Regions from separate parts of the Homo sapiens genome. Here region 2 is linked to region 1. A link means that fine-mapping ties the variant in region 1 to the expression of a gene that starts in the linked region. Tissue or cell type: whole blood. Region 1 holds a variant in brackets; the other region holds the start of a gene. All regions are shown on one strand. Distances are between the middles of the regions.

Region 1 (2,760 bases):
AAGCAGGACTGCTGGGCAGGACCGCTGGGCAGGAAGCTGGGCAAGACCGCTGGGCAGGAAGCCGGGCAAGACTGCTGGGCAGGAAGCCGGGCATGACTGCTGGGCTGGAAGCTCTAGGGGATGTGGCACATCTGGCTACAGGAGATGGGGGTGGGTGGAGTTGACTGCTCTGGCATCTGGGTGTTTCCAGGGCAATAGGGGGCTGCACCCCTTAGCAAATTCAGGCAGAAGTAGAACTGCTGGGCCAGAAGCTCGATCAGGCATGACTCACCTGGCTACCAGCAGTGGGGGTGGGTGGGGATGCCATCCCTACTGTCTGGGTACCTCCTGGGACAAAAGGAGGCTGTGCCCATCGGCTGAGTTTCCACAGAAGCGGGCTTACTGGGCCAGAAGCTCTAATACACATATCCCACCTGGCTACTAGTAGTGGGGGACAGCAGGGTGGGTGTTTCTCAGGACAACAGGAAGCTGCACCCTCTAACCGAGCTCACACAATAGCAGGGCCACTGGGTCAGAAGCTCTAGTGGGCATTGCATTCCTGGCTCTCAGTGGCAGGGATTAGATCAGTGGGGTCATGCACCCTGCCATCCAGGTGTTTCTCAGGACAACAGGTGGCTGCACACTCCAGCTGAGTTCCCACAGATGCAGGACAGCTGAGCCAGAAGTTCTAATAGGCATTGCCCACTTGGCTGTCAGTGGCATGGGTGGGTGGGGTCACCTCTCCTGCCATCTGAGTGGTTCCTGGGACAACAGGAGGCTGTGCATGCCAGCATAGTTCAGACAGAAGTGAGGCTGCTGGGCTAGAAACTCTAATAGGTGTTACCTGCTTCATTAATAGTGGTCAGGGTGGGTGGAGTGTCATGTGCATGGCTGACCAGGTGTTTCCCAGGATAACAAAGCTGGGACTTCCACCTGACTTTAGAAAGAAGCAGGGCTGCTGGCCTATAAGCTCTAGCAAGCATTACCTGCATGGCTATCAGTGGTGGGGGCAGGCAGGGTCATGTACTCTGCCATTTGGATGTTTCATGGGACAACATGAAGCTGTGTCCTCCAGCTGAGTTCACGCAGAAGCGGGGCTGCTGTGCTGGAAGCTCTAGCATGCATTGCTTGCCTGGCTACCATTGGCAGGGGTGGGTGGGGTCACACATTCTGCAATCCAGGTGTTTCCTGGGACAACAGGAAGCTGTGACCTCTAGCTGAGTTTACACAGAAACGAAGCTGTTGGGGCAAAAGTTATAGCAGGCATTGCTTGCCTGGTTGCCAGTGGTGCGAGTGGGTGGAATCATACACTCCAAAATTTGGTTGTTCACCAAAACAACAG[G/A]AAGCTGTGTGCTCCAGCTGAGTTCACACAGAATCAGGGCCACTGAGCAGGAAGCTCTAGGAAGTGTTGCTCACCTGGTTTCCAGTGGCAGAGTCGGGTGGGGTCATGTGCTCTGCCATCCAGGTGTTGCTTGGTAAAACAGGAAGCTGCACCCTCTAACTGTGCTCAAACAGAAGTGGGCTGTCGGGCCAGAAGCTCTAACAGGTGTTGCCCACCTGGCTTCCAGTGGCAGGGCAGGTGGGGTCACACACTCTGCCATCCGGGTATTTTCCAGGACAACAGGAAGTGGCACCATCCAGCTGAGTTCACAAAAAAGCAAGACCACTAGGCCAGAAGCTCTAGCAAGCATTGACATTCTGGCTATCAGTGGTGTGGCTGGATGGGGTCATGTGCCCTGCTGTCAGAATGTCTCCTAGAACATCAGGAGGCTTCACCCTAAAGCTGAGTTCACACAAAAGGGAGACCATGAGGCTGAAGGCTATATCAGGCATTTCCACTTTGGCTACCATTGGCAAGGTGGGTGAAATAGCTGGCCGAATTCAAGCCAAAGTAGGACCGCTAGGCTAGAAGCTGGTGCTGAGCCTCTTCCAGCAAGGGGAAGTAAAGCAATCTTACTGCTCCCAGATACTGCCACTTTGGCCTCTATTGGAGCTATGGTGCAAGTGCTGGTGTTTTCTAGGGCCCAAGGCTTGTAGAAGTCCCCTTGGACTCGAGAGTTGCCTGTGAAAAAGTCTGAACAGTTTTCTGCCTCAGTCTTAGAAGTGTAGGAGGGGGACGGGGGAAGGGGGATTCTCCCATTCCTAGTCTTGCACAGGTCCCTGTTGGAGTGTGAATCTCCCTAGGTGCTCTCACTCACTCTTTCTCATATTAGAGAGGTTCTCCTGGCTCTCTGCTGAGTCCAGGCTGGCTGTTGACCAGCTTTGATCCTCTGCTCTCTGTGTTCCCCTGCTGCATTGATGGATCCTGACCTGGTTTCTCAGAAGATCAACCTGCAGAGTTAGTGCTCACTAGCCCTTTTGTTTCCTTTCTTTGAGAACAGCACACATGAGCTGCCTCTAGTCTACCATCTAGGCACTGCCTCTCATGCAGGTAAAAATGACCCAATTACTCAGATTAAAAGCTTCCAAAACCATTCTGAGTTCCTAGACACTATTCAAATGAAAAATAACAAAAATCTGATATGTAAAAAAATAGGCCTGACCTATTGGCTACAAGAGTTCAAGGGGATTTCAAAATTTTTTTGGGAAGAAGCTTTAAGATGGCTGACTAGAGGCATCTGGTACTCACGTACTCCACAAAGACGAATGGAAGACGTGAGTACTGGATGCCTCTAGTCAGCCACCTTAAAGCTTCTACCACACAAAACCAAATTAGTGAGTAGACAGTATCATCTTGAAGAGATCACCTAAGACAGAATGCTGAAATTTAACAGAAAAAAG
Region 2 (2,629 bases), 160 kb before region 1:
ATTTGATTCCACATAGTGTTCTTAACCTTCCGCTCCCGCCCCCACTGCTGAAACCCCAAGTGGGGTGTGTGGGGGGAGCAGGGGGACTGGGAGGGGGATAGAATCTAGACGAAAGAGGTGGGAGTGGGTGGGTATTAGTCCCAGAGTCACTTACCGACCATGTCACTAGCTGAGGACTCCTGAAGTGTCCAGAACTCATGCCGTCCTCCGGGAGGCTCATACTCCTGAGCTGATCGCAAGAGAGCTGTTCCCCTCACACCCGCCCCATTCTGACATAGCGCAGGGCGACGCGTTCTCGTCTTCTCGTTCTTGGGCCCCCACTCCCCTATTTCTCCGGGCTGGAAAATGAGGAGGGGGTCGAAAGGGGAGGGAGTCGATTCAGACCCAGCTGGGCCACTCTCGGAACAAGGGAAACAAAGCTCTCAAGCATCCAACCCAAAAATCAGGGGCCGGCAGAGTAGACTTCCTAAAAAGAATCCTCCCCCCTGCAGCTTTTCCTTGGACAAAAATAAAGTGGGTTCGCTGGGCCGAAGTGGCCAGAGCTTAAGGTCCTCCGTTCCCCTTTTACCTCTACCAATTCAGTTCCGGCCAAGCCCGCTCTCCACCCATCCTCTGAACTCCACACACCCTTTAAAAGGAGAGGGCCGGGGGTGGGGGCTATGAAAACCAACCCAACCCCCAAAGCGCTACTTGAACATAAAGTTGAGGCGGAGAAGAAATCCTTCAAGACAGGAACCCACGAGGAGATACCACAAGAGGATCCCTTCACCGCCGCCGTTGCCGCCGCACACCCCAGCGCCTTCCTAAAAAGAAAGAAGGGAGGAAAAAAATGCCGACGATTGGTAGAATCATAGAGAAGAACACCAGCCCCAGGGCAGGGGCTTCAGCGAAAAATGGCAGCAACTCGTGCGGGTCCTCTGGGGCGGGGTTTCTTGGAGGCACCTAGCTGCCCCACGGGGTACCTCGCGCCCCACGCGAGTCAGAACCTAAAGTGCTCTCTGGGCAACCTGAGTGGGTAGAGTGATTCCGTCTTTCTCTGGCCCTGCTAGGCCCAAAGGAGAGGTGTGACTATCGTGAGGACTCCACCTAGGGTGGAGTTCCTTAAAAAGGACAGGCGGCCGCTAGAGGAGAGTGCAAAGTGGGAGGAGGTGGAGAAGGGTGGGGCTGAGAAGGAGGAGGGAGGAAGGAGGGGGTGGGGCGGGGCCCTGGGCCGACAGAGCTGGCCTCGCCTCCGGCGGCCGCCTCCCTCAGCCTCCAGCAGCGGCAGGTATAATTCCAATCAATTTCACTTCCTTATCTGTCCCAAAATTAAGGCTTGCAAGCACACTGCTTGATTACCTATTTACTCCGGTTATGCTAATTCTCCAGGGGAGGGTGGTGAAACGGGTACTGGGATTGGGGCTGGGGGCTGTCTAAGAGGGAAAGGAGAAAACAAAAAAGCTGACAACTGGAAGCGATATTTATCCTCCTACCTCTCCATGGTAACACGAACAAGGACAGCGAGGTCACAGTGTCTTCTCAGGGAGGAAGCTAAAAGGAACGGAGATTGGAGCTTGGTGCATTTTCTAGCAAGAGATAAGCCAAGGAGGTGAGGGCGAAGGAGTAGGTGGGGAAGAAGAAGGAGTTGAAGATGATCTGTGAATACAGCGTGGCCCAGCAGGGAGACTTAAGAAAGGCTTTCTCAGTCTCCCAGATACCAGACCTCTAAGAATAGAGTTCTCAACCCCCTGAGACCGCCTCTCAGCCAGGCATTGGCGAAGATCCCCGTAAAGCTGAATCCACAGGATAGGAGCCATGTTTCCAGGATTTCTTTACGCTTGCCTGAAAGTCTCTCTCTAGCTCATTTTAATGGGAGGCCAGGAAGTCACAAGCAACCACAGCCCATTTTCAGTGCCTCTTCCCTACCACAATTCTTTTAAAGAGGAGGAAAAAGAAGAGAGACAAGAAACAAAGCAGAGGGAGGAAGAGCAAAGAGACAGGAGAAATAATAATATCTGCCATGTATTCAGCACCTAATATGGGCAAGTCCCTGAGCCAGGTGCTTTTACATTCAACATTTCCCCATTTAGTCCCAATAACAACCCTGGGAACTAGGTACTGTTATATTCTCTGTGCCCTTTATTTAAAAAAATAAGGAAACGGAAGGCCTCAGCCCAGTACTTTCGAACACATAGGTCTACTTACTTAGTTGATATTTCTGCCTGAATGTCTTCTGTGCATCTCATCTACCTTCCTTTCCCCAAAACACTCTGTTCTTCCTCCTGTAGTTCACCAACTACCTGAATGGCACCACCATACATCCAAGGCAGCACCCTGGAACTCATCCTTTAACCTGCTGTGATCTGGCCTTTGTCTGCCTCTCAAGCAGCAGAGATTTTGCTGTTCTCCTGGGCTTTACCTGGATTACAAATCCCTGGGAATTCCAAGCTGTTTCCAATCTCTATGCCTTGGGTTGCTTTACTTTCTCTGACTGAAATAGACTAAGCTCTCTGTCCACCTTTTTTTTTCTTGCATGTCCTTCCAATGAATCTGTCCACTTTCTTGAAAGGACTAACTCAAGGTCATCTCCCCTCCTTACTTAATTTCTTCAGGCAAAACTGACCATTGCTTCCTCTGTGCCCTTCTCTAC

Alleles and levels. Alleles are on the strand shown, and positions count from the first base shown. SD is a standard deviation of normalised expression in the study named.
For the expression in whole blood of the gene that starts at base 1,140 in region 2, allele A in region 1 goes with a lower level than allele G (small effect, 0.26 SD a copy in GTEx).

What was found. PIP is the estimated chance that this variant, and not a neighbour inherited with it, causes the effect.
Region 2: KLF8 starts here. The variant in region 1 is fine-mapped to the expression of KLF8 in whole blood (TOPMed, PIP above 0.99).

The regions. Positions count from the first base shown.
Region 1 is chrX:56,067,075-56,069,834 of GRCh38, reverse strand. The region is part of intron 1 of LOC124900486 (a long non-coding RNA gene); the gene reads right to left. It also overlaps a transcript of KLF8 not described here. Among named protein-coding and RNA genes, the nearest start is that of KLF8, 160 kb to the left of the region's middle. The variant G/A (reference allele first, on the strand shown) is at 1,322.
Region 2 is chrX:56,230,867-56,233,495 of GRCh38, reverse strand. It overlaps KLF8 (KLF transcription factor 8), which reads right to left and starts at 1,140. Exons shown (of 6, transcript NM_007250.5): 1 at 155-1,140. The coding sequence starts at 161.